7 linked regions of the Homo sapiens genome follow. The protein of the gene in region 1 purifies or fractionates together with the protein of each later gene. This does not show direct contact. Each region holds a gene or a part of one and is shown in the gene's direction. Other genes may lie near its edges.

Region 1 (3,257 bases):
GGACATCTCCCTCCCGACCTCAGAGCCCCAGCTTCCAAGGTCCTTGCTTTTCTGTTGTTTTCTTTCCCTGATGCCCATTTTTCCCTTTTGGACTGCCACACTCTGGTATTGCAGAGGGCCGCGGGGTGAAGATTGCCCGTGCCCTGGTGGGCACCTTCATGTCAGCACTGGAGATGCCTGGCATTTCTCTCACCCTCCTGCTGGTGGATGAGCCTCTCCTGAAACTGATAGGTGAGACTTGGAACCTGGGGTCACCCAAGCCAGGGCTCCTTGTAACTGGAAGGAGCCAGGGAGACTTGGAGACCCCGTCAGGGCTGACCGTGACAATCAGGGCTCTGGAGCCTGTGAAGAAGGCTCTTCCTGGGCTTCTCCAGCCTTCTCCAGCTCTCACTGGACTAGAAGGAGTTGGTATTAGGATCCTCCTCAGAGAGGCCTGACCCTTTCCCAGGGACCCTCTCTCCATACCCCTGTATACAGTAGGCACTCAGTCCATGCTTGTCGAGGTGGACTCCCTTCCTCCAGGGCTGCTGAGAAAGCCAGGCCACCAGGGTCAGGATGGGAGGGTCCAAGCCCTGCTGAATCCCTGGCTGGACAGCCGTGTCTAAGAGAGTTATCTTGCTGCCCTTAGATGCTGAAACCACTGCAGCAGCCTGGCCTAACGTGGCTGCAGTCTCCATTACTGGGCGGAAGCGGAGCCGGGTAGCCCCTGCCGAGCCCCAGGAGGCCCCTGATTCCACTGCTGCAGGAGGTACCAACCCCTGCCTTTGGGGAAGGGACAGGCTTCCCAAAGGATGCAGGAGTATACGGTGGGGCGGGTAGGGGCCCTGGCACCCACACCTCCCACCATAGTCAAGTGTGGTTGTGAGAAGGGCCTGGTGGGCCTGTTCTTCAGCATCCTCCCTTTCTAGGCTCAGCCTCGAAGCGGATGGCGCTGGTGCTGGAACGGGTGTGCAGCACTCTCCTGGGCCTGGAGGAACACCTGAATGCCCTGGACCGGGCTGCTGGTGACGGCGACTGTGGCACCACCCACAGCCGTGCGGCCAGAGGTTGGTGCCAGGGACTTTGCCAAGTGAGGTCATTCACAAAACCTTAGCCCCCCTTCCACTTGTTTCCCTGAAGGCAGGGACCTTCCTTTTTTTTTTTTTTTTTTTTTAAGAAGGAATCTCACTCTGTCGCTAGGCTGGAGTATGCAATGGTGTGATCTCGGCTCACTGCAGTCTCCGCCCCCCGGGTTCAAGTGATTTTCCTGCCTCAGCCTCCTGACTAGCTGAGATAACAGGCATGCGCCACCACGCCTGGCTAATTGTTGTGTTTTTAGTGGAGACGGGGTCTCGCCATGTTGGCCAGGCTGGTCTCTAACTCCCCACCTCAAGCCATCCGCTCGCCCTGGCCTCCCAAAGTGCTGAGATTACAGGCATGAGCCACCACACCCGGCCGACAGGGACCTTCTTAACACCACAAATGTATGAGGTTGTTATCTTAGAATTAAATGAAATCCTTCACAGTGAATAACTTACAACTCAAGGCGAACTTATTCTGTTGTCCTTATTTTTCTCAGTTTACCCAGACCAGTGAAAAGCTCTTAACTGTCCAGCATCATTCATTCGAGAAAAAGGTATTTGGTGCCTGCCGTGGGGCAGGCACTGCTCTCAGCTGTGGATACAGTAGTGAACAGAGCAGACAGAAATCACTGCCCTCATGGCTTATGTTCTAGGTGGAAGACAGTCAACCAGATAAATCAGTAAAACACAGAGGATGTTAGCACAAAGGGCTAAGGAGAAAAAAACCAAGCCAGGGAGCAGAGTACAGAGCGTCAAGTGGAGGGCTTCGGGGCAGGCCTCACCTCCCCAGGCCCCTTTCGGTTACGCAGCCCAGCCCCTCTCCAGACTGCACACTGGATGTGGAAAGGGATCTTGGGAAGCCTTCATTCCACTTCCCTGTCGGCCTTTTCCAGCCTTCATTGGTGCTGGCTGGAAGTCTGGCAGATGGAGGGAGGATCTCTGAATTCCTCCCCATCTCTCTCTGCCTGCAGCAATCCAGGAGTGGCTGAAGGAGGGCCCACCCCCTGCCAGCCCTGCCCAGCTGCTCTCCAAGTTGTCTGTCCTGCTCCTGGAGAAGATGGGAGGCTCATCTGGGGCGGTGGGTGCCTGGGGGCTGAAGGGCTGACAGGGAGGTGGCTGGGCTGGCTGGGGTCCAGGCCAGCACCACATGCTCAGCGTTGTCATCTTCCCCAGCTCTATGGCCTGTTCCTGACTGCGGCTGCACAGCCCCTGAAGGCCAAGACCAGCCTCCCAGCCTGGTCTGCTGCCATGGATGCCGGCCTGGAAGCCATGCAGAAGTGAGCCAGAGCCCTGTGCATCAGACCAGGGGTGGGCTGGGGGAGGTGTTTGGTGACATCTGCGCCCTGCCAGGCCCTAGCCCAACCCTCAGAGTGATTCCCTTGGTTCCCTATAGTGAGCCTCTTTCACTCTCTTTCCCTGCCAGGTATGGCAAGGCTGCTCCAGGGGACAGGACTATGGTATGTACTCAGGCTGTGGCCTCAGACCTTTCTCCTTTTGGCCCTGTAAGTCTAAAGAGCACCCTCGGTTGCAGGGCCCGTGCTCAGCCCCCTTTCCTTCACCTTGTCCAGCTGGATTCTCTGTGGGCAGCGGGGCAGGAGCTCCAAGCCTGGAAGAGCCCAGGAGCTGATCTGTTACAAGTCCTGACCAAAGCAGTCAAGGTGAGTGAGGCTGGGCCCAGCCACCTGGGGAGACAGGCTTCTAGCCAGCAGACTCCTGTCTCCATGTGACCCTGAGCAAGTTAATAACCTTCCTGGACCGCAGTTTCCTTCTCTGTACAATGGAGATGAGCACCTATCTCAGAAGGTGGTTATGTGGCTAAGGAAATATGTAGAGCCCCGCACACTGCCTGGGATGTGACAGGGCCTCAGTGAATGGTGACCCTTTTCCCTGCTGGAAGTAGATGAGAAGTGACTTTCCATTTGGTGACAGAGCAGAGGGTGCTGGCAGAGCCAGGGCAAGGGCGTGCAGGGCCAGGCTGCACGGCAGAGACGTTCTGCCCATGGCAGGAAGGAGGCGGCCTGGTGATCTGCCCTTGAACCTGCTCCCACACCCCATCCCCCAGAGTGCCGAAGCTGCAGCCGAGGCCACCAAGAATATGGAAGCTGGAGCCGGAAGAGCCAGTTATATCAGCTCAGCACGGCTGGAGCAGCCAGACCCCGGGGCGGTGGCAGCTGCTGCCATCCTCCGGGCCATCTT
Region 2 (3,500 bases), on another chromosome or scaffold:
CTTGCTGAATATCCAAATTAATAGATGTTATTTTAAATTACATTTGTCATTGTTCTAGAACAAGTTTCTTGTTCTTTCACCTTTGTGTATGCTGTGATTAGGTTAATTTTATCTCCCTGCCTAGGGTTTGTGATCTTCTACTTAGCCATAGAGTATGGAGTACAATGGATATTTATTTAAAGAACATAGACTAAAACATGAACCGTGTGCTAGTCCAAGCATTGGCAAACTACAGCCCAAGACAAATCATGGCAAATCCTGCCTGCCAGCTGTCTTTGTAAATAAGGTTTTTTTGGAATAATGCTATGCCCATTCATTTACATATTGTCTAAAGCTGTTGTCATGCTTCAATAACAGAGTTGAATACTTGGAAAAGAGACCATCCAGCCTGAAGAGCCTAAAATATTTACTATTTGGCCCTTTACAGAAACACTTATATTAGGCAATTTTATAATTTTTTAAATGTTTTTCTAGGTACCAGTCAAAAAGATGAAACTTTTAACCTGCCCAGACTCTGTATCCGGAAATTCTTCCCAAAGAAAAAATGCTTTGTCTTTGATCGGCCCGTTCACCGCAGGAAGCTTGCCCAGCTCGAGAAACTACAAGATGAAGAGCTGGACCCCGAATTTGTGCAACAAGTAGCAGACTTCTGTTCCTACATCTTTAGTAATTCCAAAACTAAAACTCTTTCAGGAGGCATCCAGGTCAACGGGCCTCGTAAGTCCCCTTCCTAGTACTTCTGCTCATTGTTTAAGACTAGAGGAGCATAGAATAACTTCCACCTAGTTTCAGCATTGAAAAATCCCAATCTACTGCTATATTTGTGTTAAATTCTAGATGGCACCAATGTTTCTAACATATATTGTTAGTCACATTTCCAGTCTAGGAAAAGGCCAAAGGAAAAAAGTTCTATTGCTTGAAATTGCCCTAGTGAACTGGACCTGCACTATGCAATAGAGTAGCCCCTAGACAAGTGTGTCTATGTAAACATAAATGTAAATAATTTAAATAGGGAAAATTTAAAAGTCAATTCACATGCCTGTATTTCAAGGACTAATATTTACACGTACTTAGTGACTAGCACACTGAAAAGCACATATACAACATTCCCAGCATTACAGAAAGCGCTTTTGAACAATACTGCAATAAAATAAACTAAATGGATGACTCTTTTTTATTGGAATAGTGTCATTTGTTTCATACATATTGATCAAATGCTTACTATGAATAGACTGAAGATACAGATATAAATGAAATAGATATGGTTCCTGTCCTAATGTTGGTTGGGGTTAAAATGGATGCAAACATTCAATTAACACAAGTCTATGTAATCTAGTACAAGAACTCTCAAATGTTGGTATGCATACATATCTTCTGAGGATCTTACCAAACACAAAAGTCTAATTCAATAGATCTCGGACAGGGTCTGAGAGTCTATTTCCAGCAAGCTTCCAAGTGATGCTGAGGACATTGATGCTGTGAGGAAAATAGGTGGTATTTGACATGCTCAGAATTACATGGAATAGAGACTTTCTTTACCACCAGAAACATTATCATTTGTTCTTCATATGCAGGTCTAGAGAGCCTGGTGCTGACCTACGTCAATGCCATCAGCAGTGGGGATCTGCCGTGCATGGAGAACGCAGTCCTGGCCTTGGCCCAGATAGAGAACTCAGCTGCAGTGCAAAAGGCTATTGCCCACTATGAACAGCAGATGGGCCAGAAGGTGCAGCTGCCCACAGAAACCCTCCAGGAGCTGCTGGACCTGCACAGGGACAGTGAGAGAGAGGCCATTGAAGTCTTCATCAGGAGTTCCTTCAAAGATGTGGACCATCTATTTCAAAAGGAGTTAGCGGTAATTTTTGTCTCAAATGTATACGGTTTAGGGTCATAGAAGCTAAAGTACCACAAGGAAAGAAAACTATTATTTATTTTGACGGAAGTAATTCCTCCTAGCTTCCATAATGGTGAAAACAACAGATTTGTGATCACATCAGTCAGAAGGACCAACTGTATTATTACAGACCCAAAGTTCTAAAACATTTTTTCCTGAATAATTTTCCCTTTACTTATGCATACAACTGACAACCAGAGCTTCTAATAAAATTACCTGCCCACTCTTCTCAGACTGATTTGATATTCTAGCCAAACACAAAGAAAATTTTCATCCTACTTATCTTGAGCAGGCTTCCGTTCAGCCACATTTATTCCATATGAAATCATTAGTCCAATATGCAAAAACAGAGTTTTCCTCTAACAGTTGACATAAAGCTATCAATCTCAGCCCTGAACCTCACCTCCAAAAAGAAAGCGACTTCAGCAGAAAGTGGGGTCAGAAGGAAGAGTGTGGTCCTGGTGAGGAGGCTGTCAGTTTCTCCAGCATCATTGACTTCTATTTTCAGAAATCGTTCCCAAAATTCTGAGGTCAAGCTAACATCCTTTCCCTGTTACTCTTTTTACTTCCTATTTTTACATTAAAGGCCCAGCTAGAAAAAAAGCGGGATGACTTTTGTAAACAGAATCAGGAAGCATCATCAGATCGTTGCTCAGCTTTACTTCAGGTCATTTTCAGTCCTCTAGAAGAAGAAGTGAAGGCGGGAATTTATTCGAAACCAGGGGGCTATCGTCTCTTTGTTCAGAAGCTACAAGACCTGAAGAAAAAGTACTATGAGGAACCGAGGAAGGGGATACAGGTAACCAAGATTTATCTGTCAATTATGGAAAGCTGCTGACCTGCCTCCTACAAACACCAAGGTGACCAAGCTTCACTGCATACAGATGTGCTTTTTTGTTTGCATAACATTCATGCTTTTATTCAATAACATATGCAAACAGGCTGTTATACCAGATATGTCCTAGGTGCTCATCAAAGAGAGTGCAGTCAATTAACTATTAAGTTATAAATTCAATTAGCAGATGAAGCACAAAGTTATTATTGTCATCATTACAGCTGGGCTTTTCCTGTTGCAAGAGACAGGAACCCAATGATGGCTGCTTAAACAAAAATGTAATTCATTGATTTAGGCTGCAAACTGGCTTTACAGGTCAGGTGGGTCTAAGGTTTCAAGTAACATCATGAACTGGCTCTCTGTCCAGTGTTCCCCCATCCCCACAGTTTTCTCCCTCCCACCATCCCTCTATCTGAGTCACTCTGATATTTGCTTTCTCAATGATGGCTTCATTCCCCAGCAGGCTCAGCCCATATGGGACCACAGCATTAACAGTTCCAAACTTAGAGCCCTTAATCTAAACAGGACAGAGACTCTCCTTTTCCCAGTATCTATATTAGCCTACTAAAAATGACTGCTAAGTAGGATGTTCTGATCGGCTTGCCAGGAGCATGTGTCTGTCGCTCCGACAGGGAATTTGACCACCAAGGACAATAGGGCCAAGAGAAAGAATTCCCAGAGGAGAAAGGATGGCAGGAAGACAAACAGGAACACCTGCTTACAGCCATTTCCTACTTCTCACTCTGTGTTCTCTGGGTCCTAAGGCTGAAG
Region 3 (3,500 bases), on another chromosome or scaffold:
ACCCACTCTGGACCACTCTCACCCTTGGTGGACTCCCTCTTCATACCTCTTGGACTCTAACATCCTGCTCCATACTACCTATTACCCTTTCCCCTCCATTTCTGGTCACCTACCTTGCTCTGTCCCACCTAATGACTTCAGGATGAATTTTTCAGGAAAGCAAGGGAAAGGGGACTTCCTTATATTTGTATGGATACATTCCATGTCCTAGTGTCCAAGTGTAATTATGGGCAGCATATTCATGGTTTTGTAACCTCATTTTGTTTTTTAATTTTGGTATCTGTTAGTTTGCTAGAGCTGCAGTAACAGAGCACTACAAACTGAGTGACTTAAATAATAGAAATTGTTAAACAGCAGAATATTGTCTCACAGTTCTGGAGGCCAGAAATCTGAAAAATCAAGGCATGGGCAGAGCCATGCTCCCTCTGAAGGCATTAGGGAAAGGTCTCTTCCAGCCCTGTCTCCTAGCTGCTGATAATCCTGTGGCTTGTGGCAGCAAAACTCCAATCTTCATGTGGCATTATCTTAACTAATTACATCTGCAGTGACCCGATTTCCAAACAGGTTCACATTCTGAGGTACTCGGGGCTAGGACTTCAACATACAAATTCTGTGGAGATGTAATTCAACACATTACAGATGCCCAGGTATCCAACTTCAGTCATTTGGCATTTTACTCTGATGTAGCTTGAATACTTGGAAACATACATTTTCTATATTTTCCATGTTTCTATGACAGTTTTTTAAATATGGTACCTAGCTGATATTAGTTATTATCCAAAATACCCTGTTTTACCTAATGGGATTATTTTTTCCCATTTTTACTATGAAGTATTTGATGCCCACTGAAGCGTGTATGTAATATAGCCCTGAGATACAAACCATAGTAATGAAACAAATATGTTCCCACAACCCAACTTAAAAATGAAACATTACAGATGTCTGTACTTTTTGAATTTGTTTTCATTTTTAAGGGATTACATTGAAATTAACAATAAATTTGATGTGCTAACATCACTGTGTTCTGATAAGGAGGGCTGGAACAAGTTATTTAACCTCTATAAATCTCTCTTACCTCTCTATAGATAGGAATACTTATGGTACCTTCCTTACAGGGTTACTGTGAACATTAAATGAGATAATATACATAAAAGCAGTATTAGAACATAAATGCATAATAAATACCAAGTTTATTATTCAGTAGAAAGAGAAATTAATTGGCATTTTTTTCTTTAAGTAGAAAGTATTCTGGAATGCCATTTTTCCGCCTAATCATAGTTCTTAGTGTTTCTTCATTACTTTTACTTTTACAGTTTTATCAAGATCACACATAACACATCTGCATAATTACAATTTGAGTCTCATAAACAAAATTATGCCTGAGAGAGTATTTATCTCTATGTTTATATGTAGCTTGTAATGGTAGTTTCTTCTATGTTTTTAATACATAAAGGGATTCCTTGTATTTAAAAGTCTCAAATTCCAAAGATGGAATGTCAAAGAATAATTTCAGTCTAAATTCATTTGTATGTCTTTAGGATATTGTTTTATTTTGTAGCAAATGACTACATATGATTATTTTCTACACTAGAAGGCAAAAATCACCAGGTCTTGCCTATTTTGTTAATATGAATTAAATTATGTCTTTGTAAAATGTCTTTTCTTTCATTCAGATCCCCTTGGAAAGGACTTCCAGAACTGACCAATGAGAATGCCCAGTACTGTCCTTTCAGCTGTGAAACACAAGCCTGGTCAATTGCTACTATTCTTGAGACACTTTATGATTTATAGTTTATTACAGATATTAAGTATGCAATTACTTGTATTATAGGATGCAAGGTCATCATATGTAAATGCCTTATATGCACAGGCTCAAGTTGTTTTAAAAATCTCATTTATTATAATATTGATGCTCAATTAGGTAAGATTGTAAAAGCATTGATTTTTTTTAATGTACAGAGGTAGATTTCAATTTGAATCAGAAAGAAATATCATTACCAATGAAATGTGTTTGAGTTCAGTAAGAATTATTCAAATGCCTAGAAATCCATAGTTTGGAAAAGAAAAATCATGTCATCTTCTATTTGTACAGAAATGAAAATAAAATATGAAAATAATGAAAGAAATGAAAAGATAGCTTTTAATTGTGGTATATATAATCTTCAGTAACAATACATACTGAATACGCTGTGGTTCATTAATATTAACACCACGTACTATAGTATTCTTAATACAGTGCTCACTGCATTTAATAAATATTTAATAAATGATGAATGATAGAAGTTTCCATCTACAATATATGTTCCTAAATGGAGCACAGATGTTCAAACTATGCTTTCATTTTTTCACTGATATATTAATTTTTGTGTAATGAATGCCAACAGTATATTTTATATGATTTACTTATGTGAGGAAACATGCAAAGCATTAGGAAATTTATTTCCTAAAAACAGTTTTGTAAAATTAGTATTGAGTTCTATTGAGTATTATAAGATAGCTTACATTTTCAAAATGGAAATTGTCGGTCATATTTCTAGAACTTTAAAGAAAAAAGAATGTTATATTAGTTTTCTAAAACTCAACTATCTTTAGTCATGTTCAAAAATCTATTGCTAGATCATAGTAGATACTGGTTTTCTATTAACTCAAAACCTACATTGACAAGTTTAACATTGAGAAGAATCTTAACAAAAATATGGATATGAATTCAGTAGATATCTTAAATTCAATAAAATCACTGGAAGTTTTTCATGATAACTTATTTTAAGATGCCTTAAAAATCTTAAAGTCACAAAAGGAAAAAGGTTTTTAACATTTACATGAGTTAACATTTTTTCATAGAACTTATTTCCTAGATAGAATTTTTTACTGTTTTTTACTGTTTTCTTAAGAAAACAGTTAAATCATTATGCATTCAGTTGGAAGAAAGTAGTGGCAAGAATTCTTTCATTGCTATATAATATTCAGTGGCTCATTTATACCTAATAAAATAATGGTATTTTAAAATAATGCTACTTTCAAAGTAGCATTTTTTTAGTTAGTTTACAGGTTACATACCCAAAACCTTAACTATGACTAAGAAATTAAAGAAGAAAACCAGCAAACTAAAACTTCTGGGCAGCAAAAATATATAAATGCTTCAGATGTCAAATACCCATGCTTGAAAGCTCGTGTAATTTACTTTAAGATTATCTGCCTGCTCTTCTTCAAAGCTGACCTTGCTTTAGAAATAGTTTTAACTAGCTTAGTTTTCTGGTTTCCAAAACTAAAATAGATTAAATCCTACAAATTTAAGGACAGTTGTGACAGTAATCTGACCACTATCTATAAATACATTGGACATTGGTTTCCAAATCTCCCTTTCTTCTTCAGTTCCTTCCTTGTTCAATATATACCCTTCTCTAAACTGTGCGGGTAAAAGGAATGACTGTCCTTGAGAGAACCATTAGTTTATCAAAGGTTTATGTAGTTTTGTTGCTGTACCCTAACTTTGATATTCA
Region 4 (3,500 bases), on another chromosome or scaffold:
TTATTATCCTGTCCCACTACACTTTAATCCCCCATTGTGATAACACCGCAGGCACAGACGCTGTTGCTTTAACAATGCAGCCTTTCGGGGCTGATGACTGGGAGTGGGGAATGCATGCTTGGGCCCTACTCTACACGGACTGAATCACAGTTGGTGGAGGGGGGTGAGTTCCTGGATTTTGCATTTTTAATCATCTGCCTCACAGTAATTCTGTTGCTGATTAAAGTATGAGAACTCCTCTAGTAGGTTCCTTATTTAAAACAACAACAACAAAAACTTGTCTGAAACCTTTGGCACACCTACCTCACTCAGCCCAACCAGTCAGCCTAGTCAGTCTCATTAAGTCCTGTGGCTTCTGCCTGCCAATGTTCTCAAATTTGTTGCTCATCACCTGTTCCTTACTTTAGTTTCCTGGCTACAGTCTCCCCATTTGTCTCCGTTTGGGGATGGGCCCGATCATTAGGAACTCAACAGGATCCCTGTCCCTTTTCCCATTTAAAAACTCTTCCGTGGGTCCCTATTACCCCATGGATGAAGTCTAAACTCTGTATCAACACATACAAGGTCAATTTCTACCCGGTTTTTCCTCTTCCCCCAGTATATTCCTTGTGCTTCCCGGTAGCCAGGAAGCACCTGGACTCAGGATTTGACAGCTTTGGAGAAGACTTTTTTGTGTGCTTTACATAGGAATTCTCATGCGTTAATTGTGTTTGAAAATATTTTATGGGCTGCTTCCGGGAGATCCCTTGTTGGCATTGCCTTCCTTTGGCATGCGCTTTTGCTTTGTGATTTTTTTTTTAAATGCTCTTTTCCCAACTCTGCAAAAGATTCTTAATTGCACAGGTTATGCTCTATATGACTCCAGGCTGAATAACCTCATGTTGCCGGGAATTAGTTTTGTGGGCTTGCCATTAAAAAATTGAGTAAACCACAATGATTCTTTTTAGATTGTAGTTTCCAAGTTATACCGATTTCCTTAAACCTATGGAGGTAGCATATGGTAAGATTTTAGTTTCTACTTCATATCTGTAATCCTCATCTAGTTCTCATTGGGTAGTTCAGTATTTAAAATGCTTTGGAAGGGATGACAGCTGTTTAAGAAATTGACTCCATAATCAAGGCGCTAGGAGTGACCCCCATCCTGGCTAACAAGAGAGGGGTACTTTTTCAAGTAATCTGAAGCCCCGCATGAGACATTCTAATTTAATAACCAGTAGTCAGTCAATGTGTCTTTTTTTTTTTTTTTTTAAGAAAGTCACTTTTGCATTTGCAGTGGAGGAGTTACCAATTGGGAATCTTCTCATCCCCTTAGTATGTAATTTACTCCGTTTTGTTTGAATTGGTAGTTTCAGGCCTTAGCTACCTTCTCAGGAGATAAAGATTAAAATGCTGTGTTCTCTAATAGCTTTAAAAAGTTAGAGCTTTTGATTTTGGATTTCATACCCAGAAGATTGGAGATTATGGGCTTTATAATTGCGATCACCATGGTTATGCTAACCTTTCACAGATAAGGATTAGTTATAAAGTTACTAGCATCTGTTTAAAAACGTCAATAAAGTTCTTAGTTTAGTTTTTGGAGTCTGCATATTCCAGGTGTTTTAATTCACTATTTCACTGCAGTTGTAACCTAAGCCTGCTGGTGTGCACTGTGGCTCCGACCACCATTTCATGGTATAGACTCAGTTCTTTTGAAAAGTCAGAAAACCTCCTCAATTGAATCTGCGAACCACGTATGTAAACCATGCACAAATGCTCTTTAAAACCCTTACAGCTAGGCACTTTTCCAGACCCCAGGAAAAACAACCCTGCGGCCCTGAGGTGTGGTGGGCCTGGGTTTCATTAAATTGACACTGTCATCTGTGTTCCGGAAGGAGCCACCGAGCTAGCTAGTGGTGATACTGGTGATAAATGTGTTTACGTGCTAAGCCACAGATTCAAAAGGAGCTGGTAAGAGCCAGTAGCATGTTCTAGATTCCTGAACTGACTTGACTCTGGGTAGTTTTACACACACCTTAATTTTTCCCTCTCCATGAAGGTGCTAATGATACTAAAATCCCACACACTGTGTCGTTGGGTGGAATGTCCAATAAAATGTTTGGAAGAGTATCAAATGATACATAAAATACCTAACACTAATTGCAATACTTAGGGCAGAGTACTTTGAAATTGTGCCAGTGGATAAAGATGCTCAGTTATAAAGAGGTGTGAATTTAACTTACTTGAAGGGTAACGAAAGCTCTGCTGGCAAGAGAAGAGGCAGAAAATAATGGGTTGCCCTGTGTTTTGAAGGTTGGTCTACTTTATTTAAAGGGCTTCCTCCCTAAGTGATTAAAGCAGAATTTTAAAAGGACACTTTGATTTAAGATATCAATTACTTGTGTTGCATGACTCCATTTTTTTTCATAAATGAAAATTTCTCCAGTGAGAATCCTGAGCAATTCCTAGAACACTGCTGTATTTAATTCTGAATTCTCCCTTCTAGAAGGACTGTAGATCACAGTGTTCAAACAAGACTTATGTGCCTGTGGGCATTCCAAATTCCTTTGCTGGCCTTACAGTGCAGAGGTGAATATAGAACTGTTCCTCAATCCTTTTTCTTAGAGTACAGGTTGAGCATCCCTAATCCGAAATGCTCCAAAATCTGAAACTTTGAGCACCGACATAACACAAAAAAATGCTGATTCGGGATTTCCAGATTAGGGACTTTGAGTCAGTGAGTGTGATGCAGATATTCCAAAGTGGAAAAAAAAAAAAATCCAAAACACTTTCGGTCCCAAGCATTTTGGATAAAGGATATTCAACGTGTATTTTCAGGGCCAGTGCCTTGGATCATGCTTTGGAAAACAGTAGTGGCATAGTTTTTTGTTTTTGTTTTTCAAAGATGGGGTCTTGCTGTGTTGCTCAGACTGATTTCGAGCTCCTGGACTCAAGGGATCCTCCAGCCTGAGACTCCTGAGTCACTAATGTTACTGGTGCACACTGCAGTACCTGGCTGAAGTTTTATAAATGGCTTAACACTGAATCTTTTAACTGTATAAGGCAGTAGCTAAGTGGCCCAGTTGCATGTGGAATTTTGAGGAAGATGGTCATGGGTTTCTCAGTCCAAGTGTTTGTTCCTACGTGGGGGTTTGTCTAATTTGGAGCTGGAGGCTTGATGTTGAGAAGAGAGAGGAAAGAGCTTACTATTAACTCCCTTTGGTATGAGATGCAAGAATATGACAGGACTTTTTTTTTTTTTTTTTTTTTAATTTGAGTTCTGGGATGCAGTACAGAACGTGCAGGTTTGTTACATAGGTATACATGTGCCATCGTGGTCTGCTATACCTATCAACCTGTCATCTAGGTTTTAGACCCTGCATGCATTTGTCCTAATGCTCTCCCTCCCCTTGCCCCCCACCCCCTGACAGGCCCAGGTGTATGATGTTCCCTTCCCTGTGTTCATGTGTTCTCATTGTTGGGCTCCCACTTATGAGTGAGAACATGTGGTGTTTGGTTTTCTG
Region 5 (3,500 bases), on another chromosome or scaffold:
AGATAGGTGAGATGCCACTGACTGACAGTATACTCTGTGATGGTCTTACAGATGCATTTCACAACTGTCATATGGGTATTACAGGTAAGGCAGACATGGCTGAAACTGTATTAGCTTTAAAAAGGTTAAAAAGACCATATACTAATCTGCTTCTTAGGTGCTTTCGTCCTTATGGCCAGAGACTGTCTTAAGGATTTTTATATCTCTTCTTTGATTAACTGAAGTGAAGTAAGTATTCTCTTCTTTGTGAACTCTTGATTATCAGAGAATGTTAGAAGTGGGAAGTACCTCAGAGTTCTTCTGGATCAACCCCTCATTTTACCAAATGAAGAAACAGGGCCCACAAATAGTGCTTCTGTGGCAGAGGTAGTGACAGAGATAAACCAGTTGTTTTTTTGGTACCTAGCTGTACTTTTTGTACTACACAATTGGGTTATTGGTCATTCATGCTGAAGGGTCCTGTGGTCTAAGTTTAATGGCAAAGCAACTGGGAAATCAAAAGCACTCTTGTCTTTAGTATACATGTAAAACTTAAGAAACAGAATAGACATTTTAGAGTTAAAGAATCAAACCCTGAGAAGTTAAGCACCTTGCTCAAATGCATGCAGCAATGGCTCTGGTTTTATGTAACACATAAATATGTGAAAAAGGTAATGGGGAAAAGTACAAGATTCCAAGAGGGAACTGTGTGCATGAATGCTAGGAAGGAAGGAAGGGCTTAGGGATATGGGAAGCAATGAGAAGCTCAAGGCATCTTGACCACTTCTCGACTTACAGCCACAACAGAGAAGGCTATAAAAACACAGGCAGACAATGGAAGACACTGTGTGACCAACTGCCTCAACCATAACTAGAGGTGGTCATTAAAAATTCAGATCCCGAGCCCTTTCCAAGGTGTACTGTGGATTGAATGGTACTCTTCCAGCCTCCAGAACTGTAAGAAAATAAATTGCTCTTCTTTAGAAAAAAAGAAAAGAAAAAAGGCTCAGGTCATGATGGAGTAATTGACAAAGATTAGATTTCCTACTATAAACAAGCATAAAACTTGTGAAAATATATAAAGCCACTGTTTTATGTATGTCAGGTTTTGACTAATACTCATGTAAGACTGAGATCCTTGAGAGAAGGGAAAACCCCACTGTCACTGTCTCTACCCAGGGCACTTCCCAAACTGTGTTATGGAGAGGCAGAGCCTAAGCTGGAAACAGTGGTCTCAGTGATCTGAAGAAGCAGAGAATTTGGGGCTTCTGAGATGGCTGGAGTTTGTGGGGCAGAATAAGGGGGAGAAGAAAAAAAGAGCTCCAGAAATCTGCAAAAGGTTCCCCTTAAGTCTTTGATCAAATACTAAGCTTGTAGATAACAGCTTACAAGGCCTAGTAGAAAAGAGCTGCAAAGGAGAGGTGAACTGGAGATTTTATAGATTACTAGGAGATAAAAGTTCTGGACAAGCGAGTGGAAACCTTACTGAACTCCTTGGACACTCCATTGACATCTCAGAAAGACCACAGTTTAGGGGTAGGGCCAAAGCCATAGAGTAAAAGCTACTCTAGACCCAAACTAATAAGCTTAAAAACAAGCCTCAAAAGGATCAAGGTGATTTGCCAGTATTTTGACTGCTTGTGGAAACAAAACTCAATATATTCTCTAAAGATAATAAAATCTCTATGTCCAGTTATGTAGCAACTATAATGTTCAGCATGCAATGAGAACTTTCTAGATACACAAAGAATTAGGAAAATATAGCTTACAACCAGGGTGGAAAAAAACCACAACAGTCAACAGACCCTGCAATACTAGAATTATCAGATGAGGATCTTAAAGGCTCTATTTTACATATGTTTAAAGATACAAAGGAAAATATAATCTTCATAGAGGAATAGATGTGGACATCTCAGGAGTAAAAGGAAAAAATATAAACAAGAACCAAATAGAAATTCTAGAACTTGCAAAGTACACAATCTGAAATTAAGAATTCACTGGGATGGGGCCGGGCATGGTGGCTCGCACCTGTAATCCCAGCACCTTGGGAGGCTGAGGTGGGAGGATCACTTGAGGCTGGGGGTTTGAGACTAGGCTGAGCAACATAGTTAGACCTCATCTCTAAAAAAAAAGAAAAAAAAATTCTGAATGGCCTTAACAGCATCTTGGAGACAGAAGAAAAAGGGTCAGGAAGTTTGAAGATAGATCATATACACGACCTGAAGAACACAGAGAAAAATAATGAAGAATAAATGAACAGGCCAGGCACGGTAGCTCACGCTTGTAATCCCAGCACTTTGGGAGGCCAAGCCGGGTAGATCATCTGAGGTCAGGAGTTCAAGACCAGCCTGGCCAACATGGGGAAACCCTGTCTCTACTAAAAATACAAAAATGAGCTGGATGTGGTGGCCCATGCCTGTAATCCCAACTACTTGGGAGGCTGAGGCAGAAGAATAGCTTGAACCCAGGAGGTGGAGGTTGCAGCAAGCTGAGATCACACCATTGCGCTCCAGCCTGGGTAACAAACAAAACTCTGTCTCAAAAAATTAAATTAAATTAAATTAAATTAAAAAATAGGCCAGGTGTGGTGGCTCATGCCTGTAATCCCAGCACTTTGGGAGGTCAATGCAGGCAGATCACCTGAGGTCGGGAGTTTGAGACCCACATGACCAACATGGAGAAACTCCATCTCTACTAAAAATACAAAATTAGCCAGGCTGGTGGCGCATGCCTGTAATCCCAGCTACTCGGGAGGCTGAGGCAGGAGAATCGCTTGAACCTGGGAGGCGGAGGTTGCGTTGAGCTGAGATCACGCCATTGCACTCCAGCCTGAGCAACAAGAATGAAACTCCGTCTCAAAAAAATAAAATATAAATGAACAGAGCCTTGGTGGTCTGCAGGACAAAATAAATAGGACTAGCATGCATGGAATAGGAATCTCATACATAAGGAAGAGAGAGAATGGGGCAGAAAAAAACTGAAGAAAATTTCCACATTTGGTGTGAAAAGAAGTTCAAAGACCAAGATAGACAAGGGAAAAATTACACCTTAGCAAATTGTAGCAAAAAGTTAAAAAAAGATCATGCCACTGCACTCCAGTCTGGGCAACAGAGTGAGACTCTGTCTCAAAAAAAAAAAAAACAAGAGTGAAAGTGAAGAGCCATTTTTAGATGAAGGAAAATGAATTGCCTGCACACCTACACTACAAGAAATACTAAAGGAGCCAGGCATGGTGGTATGTGCCTGTAGTCCCACCTACTCAAGAGCTGAGGCAAGAGATTGCTTGAGTCCAAGAGTTTGAGTCTAGCCTGGGCAATGCTATCATAGTCTACTATGATTGCACCTGTGAGTATCTACTGCATTCCAGTCTGGTTAACATAGTGACACAACAACAACAACAACAACAAAAGAATAGCTTCCAGCCGGGCGCGGTGGCTCACGCCTGTAATCCTAGCACTTTGGGAGGCCGAGGCGGGCGGATCATGAGGTCAGGAGATTGAGACCATCCTGGCTAACACGGT
Region 6 (3,500 bases), on another chromosome or scaffold:
GTAATTCAATCTTTTGATCTTTTGTCTCAGTTCTCCCATGAGAGAATAATGTTCAATGGTAAAGGTGATGTTTACTCATGTTTAGATAACAGCGAGAATCTTGGAGGCCCATCAGAATGTAGCTCAGATGAGTCTAATTGAAGCCAAGATGAGATTTATTCAAGCTTGGCAGTCACTACCTGAATTTGGCATCACTCACTTCATTGCAAGGTCAGTGGTTCTAAGCATCTATGTGTAAACCTTAATCTGCATTTTTGCTTAATCTACCTCATGTAATTAGATATTAAACATCTAAAGCATACCTATGTAGACCCATTAACTCATATTACAATAGAATTCAAAGACTGTTAGAATGTATTTTGTAAGCTTTTAATTTCTACATTAAAAATTCAAGATAATTGTGTTTGTTTTACTACTAAGAGAATAGCACTCTTGGCCAGGCACGGTGGCTCACGCCTGTAATCGCAGCACTGTGGGAGGCCGAGGTGGGTGGATCACGAGGTCAGGAGATAGAGACCATCCTGGCTAACACGGTGAAACCCTGTCTCTACTAAAAATACAAAAAATTAGTGGGGCATGGTGGTGGGCGCCTGTAGTCCCAGCTACTCGGGAGGCTGAGGCAGGAGAATGGCGTGAACCCAGGAGGCGGAGCTTGCAGTGAGCTGAGATCGCGCCACTGCACTCCAGCCTGGGCAACAGAGCAAGACTCCGTCTCAAAAAAAAAAAAAAAGAATAGTACTCTTTTAGGGTTAGAGAGAACACTTATCTTGAAGAAAAGCAGTCCAACATGTTCCCCCACAACATGTTTTTAACCGTTCTTTTCTTAAATGTTATAGGTTCCAAGGGGGCAAAAAAGAAGAACTTATTGGAATTGCATACAACAGACTGATTCGGATGGATGCCAGCACTGGAGATGCAATTAAAACATGGCGTTTCAGCAACATGAAACAGTGGAATGTCAACTGGGAAATCAAAATGGTAAACTCATAACAATGTTACTTGAATATAGTCCTTCTCTGATACAAATTAGTACATTAAGAATAAAAAGGCCTATAAATTCTGATGATTATTTGTACCACCACCTCTTAAAGTACAGACAGACCATGGTTGACTATTCATTTCTCACTTAAATTTGCCTATTTCATAATTAGCCCAGTTACTAAAATTCTAAGTGCATAATTTGCTTAGAATGTTGCCTTTTTTGTCTTTCTGTAATGGATAAAGCCGATCTACTCTGAAATAGCAGCTACTGTTTGTTGAATGCCTACCCTGTGCCAGACATGATACTTAGAGGCTTACATTAGTACCCTGTCTCTAAACCTCATCACAGCCTTTTAAGGCAGTTGGACAAATGAAGACACTGCAATAGAGAGACCTGAGGGCCATCATTGTCTATGACCACGCACAAAGTAACTACAGAATCATTTCAAACTCAGATGCTTTAGGCTTAAAAACCTGGCACATTTACCACTGTACATCATGTTGCCCCCAGTCTTGGAGTATACGAGTATCATTTAAAATGAACCATCTTTTACTAATAAGTCATTTGGTTTAGCATCATATTGGATTTATTGTATCAATTCCTATTACTTCAAAGAATCTTATATTTCTGAAATACTCAAACGTGATACCTAAAATTTAAGTATCTGAAGCGAACGTTAAAACACAGGAAGTAGGCTTTCCTGCACGACTTGAAGAGAGGCATTCTCATTAATTGAATCAATCACCAGAGACCATTTGAGAACTGAACGACCTAAAACCCTTGCATTCCTAGTCTTCCTTTTCAGAACATGAAAACTTAAAGTGTAGGGGAAGGGCAATAAACTTAGCTTCTTCTTTGGGACTTAAAGGCATTATTCGTTTAGGTTTTAGACAGACTGATCATTTGAGGATCAACAAGTGTTTTGTGATATGACAGACTTTAAGTAGCACAGTAGTTTTGTGTGGACCCAGCCACCTAGCATTTGGGACAGCACTGATGGCTCTTGTCTTTGTTCCAGGTCACCGTAGAGTTTGCAGATGAAGTACGATTGTCCTTCATTTGTACTGAAGTAGATTGCAAAGTGGTTCATGAATTCATTGGTGGCTACATATTTCTCTCAACACGTGCAAAAGACCAAAACGAGAGTTTAGATGAAGAGATGTTCTACAAACTTACCAGTGGTTGGGTGTGAATAGGAATACTGTTTAATGAAACTCCACGGCCATAACAATATTTAACTTTAAAAGCTGTTTGTTATATGCTGCTTAATAAAGTAAGCTTGAAATTTATCATTTTATCATGAAAACTTCTTTGCCTTACCAGACCAGTTAATATGTGCACTAAACAAGCACGACTATTAATCTATCATGTTATGATATAATAAACTTGAATTTGTCACACATTCCTTAGGGCCATGAATTGAAAACTGAAATAGTGGGCAAATCAGGAACAAACCATCACTGATTTACTGATTTAAGCTAGCCAAACTGTAAGAAACAAGCCATCTATTTTAAAGCTATCCAGGGCTTAACCTATATGAACTCTATTTATCATGTCTAATGCATGTGATTTAATGTATGTTTAATTTGATATCATGTTTTAAAATATCCTACTTCTGGTAGCCATTTAATTCCTCCCCCTACCCCCAAATAAATCAGGCATGCAGGAGGCCTGATATTTAGTAATGTCATTGTGTTTGACCTTGAAGGAAAATGCTATTAGTCCGTCGTGCTTGATTTGTTTTTGTCCTTGAATAAGCATGTTATGTATATTGTCTCGTGTTTTTATTTTTACACCATATTGTATTACACTTTTAGTATTCACCAGCATAATCACTGTCTGCCTAAAATATGCAACTCTTTGCATTACAATATGAAGTAAAGTTCTATGAAGTATGCATTTTGTGTAACTAATGTAAAAACACAAATTTTATAAAATTGTACAGTTTTTTAAAAACTACTCACAACTAGCAGATGGCTTAAATGTAGCAATCTCTGCGTTAATTAAATGCCTTTAAGAGATATAATTAACGTGCAGTTTTAATATCTACTAAATTAAGAATGACTTCATTATGATCATGATTTGCCACAATGTCCTTAACTCTAATGCCTGGACTGGCCATGTTCTAGTCTGTTGCGCTGTTACAATCTGTATTGGTGCTAGTCAGAAAATTCCTAGCTCACATAGCCCAAAAGGGTGCGAGGGAGAGGTGGATTACCAGTATTGTTCAATAATCCATGGTTCAAAGACTGTATAAATGCATTTTATTTTAAATAAAAGCAAAACTTTTATTTAATATTTATTTTTGTACTTGTTTTTAATGTTTACATAGTATTAATTTAGTAGAAATGAACTTCTGCCTTTTGGAATTGCTTTGCCTGCATGTTATTTTGTGAGAACAACTGGTTAGTATTCCACAGCGTTGCCAGATAGAGATACTTTATCTCAAAGATAGTCTTTCACCTCAATTGAAAAGCCCTCATTTTCTTAATACTTAAAAATGAATGTGTAATATCTA
Region 7 (3,379 bases), on another chromosome or scaffold:
GGTCTGTGCAAAGTACACCAAGTGGAAAAAAGTTTAGACAAGAGTTTAGGTTTCAAGATAAATGTTCTGCTCTATTGGCACTGGTTTTAAGTCTTTTGTGCTACTTTTTAGGCATTGCTGTGTAAGTTTTGGTGGTGCGTGGGTACAATGAAGCCAGGAGGGATAGAAAGGGAAATGATGTGTGTGCTGCAGGCTAAACAGGGGCTCTTCCTTATGCCTCATAACCACCTGTGTGTGACAGTTTCACATTTCCTATCAAATTATTATCTTCATTCATTTCTACTTGTGAATGAAGTTCGGAGACTAAGAAAAAGCCAGCTGTTGGAATAGAAAGCACTTTAGGATAAAATGGTCTTGTTAAAATCACCAATTAAAAAGTTAAGCCCCTGATGTACAAATAACTAAAACACATACATACAAAGACAGTGCTTCTTGTTCAATGATTTACTTCACAGCTGATTCATAATCAAATGAACAAGAATCTGCAAGAACAGAACATGGTGGGCAGGGTCCAGTAATTCCAAATGTTGTCATCCTAGCTCTTCCTGAAGCATATTGAATCCTCCAAGTATATCCCGTTGTGCTAACTAGGCTTTAAGTCTTTTGTCTGTAGATTCATTCTCAAAGTTTCTCCCTCAGAACAAAGAGCACGCCATCCTGTAAAGTACTCTTCCTGATTTTTTTTCACCCAATTTCTTAGTTTCTTTCAATTGCTTTTCAGACCCCGGCAGGCAGATTCTGCCCTCATCTGTCCAGTGACACTCTTCTGGCAGATTACTAAAGACCGATTTGTAGACCTGTCCATGTGGCCTCTCTCAACACCATTGGTGTGACCTTGCTCATACTGCCTCTCTCACCACTTAACATTGTCCCTTAGATGTTAAAGGCCCTTATATTAATAGTTTTATTTTAGCTCCTTTACATTTTATTTTGTCCTGAGGAATCTCAGCTACATGCATGGTCTTCAATATATGCCGATAATTCTCATTCACATAGCTCTCCTGTTGGCTTTTCCCCACTCGTTTAAAAACAACCACTTCACTTTGCTGGACTCTACCTTGAATGCCTCATTTTCAGCTCACACTCATGCTGTGCCTTTATTTAGATTTGTTGTGGTTGTTTCCCCACATTCTGGAAGCTCCTTACCTAAATCCTGTTTATTCCTTAATGCTTAGCACAATTTATTACTCTTGTTTCCATGGCACTACATTGTACTTCTGTTTTAGAGACTACCTTCCTCTGAAGCATATGACAGGTTCATTTACTATCCAGCCCACCAAAACTCAGTTTTTGAGCTCCTCTATGTTCATCTTTTTATGGCTAACCCTCACCATCATGAGTGCTTAGTAAATGTTGAGTTGGAATGAATTTATTCCTACAGGTTGCACTTGCTCTCTCACCAAGTGTTCTGGCCAAATAATTCTGGAATGATTTCCTTACCTTAAGGGAGTCTGATCTGGGAAGAGCCTGGGACGTGATGTAACTTCATATGCTGTAGAGCTGAATATTCATTTACTTAAGATCTTAGCTCCATTAGAAAGCAGTGAAAGCAGTGTTAATTCAGAGGCCGGGTATGGTGGCTCACGCCTGTAATCCCAGCACTTTGGGAGGCCAAGATGGGCAGATCACTTAAGGTCAGGAGTTCAAGACCAGCCTGGCCAACATGGCAAAACCCCATCTCTACTAAAAATACAAAAATTAGCCGGGTGTGGTGGCACATGCCTGTGATCCCAGCTACTCGGGAGGGTAAGGCAGGAGGAGGTTACAGTGAGCCAAGATCACACCACTGTACTCCTGGGCAACAGAGTTAAACTGTATCAAAAAAAAAATGCAGTATTGATTTAGAGCTAAGGTCACCTGATGCTCAGGCCAGTAATTTCTCCCTGCATCATGCTGTTGTCTAAGGCAGACACTGTAAAGCTCTACACTGCTGAAAAACTAAGCTTGAGATGCATAAAAGAACACATAGAGATGGGGAGTCAGTTCTCCATACATTTTGTGAGTAGAGGCATTGGTGTTTTGTTCCAAACTATCCAATCGAGAATGTTCATATAATGACAGCTTTGGAAGGTAGAGACTATCTTCCTCTGGATCATAGGACAGGTTTGTTTACTATCTGATACAGTCAAAATAGTGTTTCCCTCTAATGCGAAAGTCAGGCCAGTTTGCTTGTGACCTCATTAGATTTGGGCTGTGACGCAAACCCACTGCATGTGCAGTATCCACCTAGCTTGCCCTGTGTCACTCCCATGGGATCTGTGGCTCAAACTCATGTTGCTTGCTATGTTCTAAATAATTAAGTCTGTTGTCTGACCCAGGAGTCTCATGTCTTCTGCCAGCATTCAGAAAACTAGTTTTCAAGAAGGGTAACATCTTAGACCTTTTACAGCTCTTGACACAGAGCAATATTGAGAAATAAAATCAGGTAAAAGTTATTTAATATAGCAGTTCATAATTTAGGCCATGGATCATCTCTGCAGAGAATCCTACCATGCTGCATTCTTGCTTTAAACCTTTCGCCCTCTAAAACAATGCCCAAGAGCCAATGTTAGTCATGGTCTTCCTGTATTTGCTCTAGGTAAGCTGTTTCATAGCCTTCCAGGACAACACTTGCACAGGTTATCTTTAAGCACCAACAAAAGAAATGGAGAAATTTGAGCCATGTATCCTGAGCTCTGAAAGGCAGCAATCATCTTGACCCCAAGCATACACCATGTTCAGCTTCCTCCCCTTGGCCAGGTACCACAGCTACTTCTATCCCAGTGATCAGCAGGCCCTCCAGCATGAAGACCTTTGAGAAGGATCTATAGCTGTCAACTCCTAATATGATTTGTGCACTATCACCTTGAAGTAAACCAGACTAGTTATTTTCATGCTAAGAGTCTGAAAACAGTGCCTTCTTTCTGATGTCTCTTGTAGAATATTGGCAGAGGGATCTCAATTTTTACTTTATACCTGAAGGGCAGCTTTTTGGTCTGATAGTTATAGTGCAATCATTCATATTTTAAATCACAAATACCCCCACTTGTTGATGAAAACTCCAGTCTGTGGCATGGGTGTACATTCACTGCCTAAACCATCTTTGGCCAAAATTTGTGTGTATATGAAGTCATTCTACTTTAGCATACTCAAAGGCATTCCTTTAAACCATTTATCTGCTTGTACACAATAGCCAAAGGAATATTTGTTACTATGGCTGATGTAATAAACTATCATCACAAATTTAGTGGCTGAAAAAAAACAAAGTTATTCTCTTTTACTTCTGGAGTCCAAATTCATGGGGCCAAAATGAAGGTGTTGGCACTCTGCTCTAGGGCAGGATCCGTTTCTTGCCTTTTCCAGTTTCTGGTAGTTGCCAACATTCTTTGGCTTGTGGCCA

The links.
Region 2: the proteins of TKFC (region 1) and GBP1 fractionate together in Homo sapiens (co-fractionation; one large-scale study listed by BioGRID). This does not show direct contact.
Region 3: the proteins of TKFC (region 1) and AGL fractionate together in Homo sapiens (co-fractionation; one large-scale study listed by BioGRID). This does not show direct contact.
Region 4: the proteins of TKFC (region 1) and SMS fractionate together in Homo sapiens (co-fractionation; one large-scale study listed by BioGRID). This does not show direct contact.
Region 5: the proteins of TKFC (region 1) and ACAT2 fractionate together in Homo sapiens (co-fractionation; one large-scale study listed by BioGRID). This does not show direct contact.
Region 6: the proteins of TKFC (region 1) and FERMT2 fractionate together in Homo sapiens (co-fractionation; one large-scale study listed by BioGRID). This does not show direct contact.
Region 7: the proteins of TKFC (region 1) and NIT2 fractionate together in Homo sapiens (co-fractionation; one large-scale study listed by BioGRID). This does not show direct contact.

The regions. Positions count from the first base shown.
Region 1 is NC_000011.10:61,343,228-61,346,484, forward strand, and holds part of TKFC (triokinase/FMN cyclase), read left to right. Parts: intron 1-114; coding exon 115-231; intron 232-628; coding exon 629-748; intron 749-908; coding exon 909-1,046; intron 1,047-2,032; coding exon 2,033-2,139; intron 2,140-2,234; coding exon 2,235-2,338; intron 2,339-2,484; coding exon 2,485-2,518; intron 2,519-2,629; coding exon 2,630-2,719; intron 2,720-3,067; coding exon of another isoform or gene 3,068-3,097; exon of another isoform or gene 3,098-3,123; coding exon 3,124-3,257.
Region 2 is NC_000001.11:89,055,209-89,058,708, reverse strand, and holds part of GBP1 (guanylate-binding protein 1), read left to right. Parts: intron 1-474; coding exon 475-717; intron 718-1,574; coding exon 1,575-1,855; intron 1,856-2,480; coding exon 2,481-2,693; intron 2,694-3,493; coding exon 3,494-3,500.
Region 3 is NC_000001.11:99,919,861-99,923,360, forward strand, and holds part of AGL (glycogen debranching enzyme), read left to right. Parts: intron 1-1,673; coding exon 1,674-1,791; 3' UTR 1,792-3,500. UniProt on the Homo sapiens protein: Multifunctional enzyme acting as 1,4-alpha-D-glucan:1,4-alpha-D-glucan 4-alpha-D-glycosyltransferase and amylo-1,6-glucosidase in glycogen degradation.
Region 4 is NC_000023.11:21,947,209-21,950,708, forward strand, and holds part of SMS (spermine synthase), read left to right. Parts: intron 1-3,500. UniProt on the Homo sapiens protein: Catalyzes the production of spermine from spermidine and decarboxylated S-adenosylmethionine (dcSAM).
Region 5 is NC_000006.12:159,768,545-159,772,044, forward strand, and holds part of ACAT2 (acetyl-CoA acetyltransferase, cytosolic), read left to right. Parts: coding exon 1-84; intron 85-3,500. UniProt on the Homo sapiens protein: Involved in the biosynthetic pathway of cholesterol.
Region 6 is NC_000014.9:52,857,051-52,860,550, reverse strand, and holds the end of FERMT2 (fermitin family homolog 2), read left to right. Parts: intron 1-85; coding exon 86-210; intron 211-836; coding exon 837-978; coding exon of another isoform or gene 979-990; exon of another isoform or gene 991-1,245; intron 1,246-2,000; coding exon 2,001-2,174; 3' UTR 2,175-3,278; downstream 3,279-3,500. UniProt on the Homo sapiens protein: Scaffolding protein that enhances integrin activation mediated by TLN1 and/or TLN2, but activates integrins only weakly by itself. Binds to membranes enriched in phosphoinositides.
Region 7 is NC_000003.12:100,358,757-100,362,135, forward strand, and holds the end of NIT2 (omega-amidase NIT2), read left to right. Parts: 3' UTR 1-2,879; downstream 2,880-3,379. UniProt on the Homo sapiens protein: Has omega-amidase activity. The role of omega-amidase is to remove potentially toxic intermediates by converting 2-oxoglutaramate and 2-oxosuccinamate to biologically useful 2-oxoglutarate and oxaloacetate, respectively.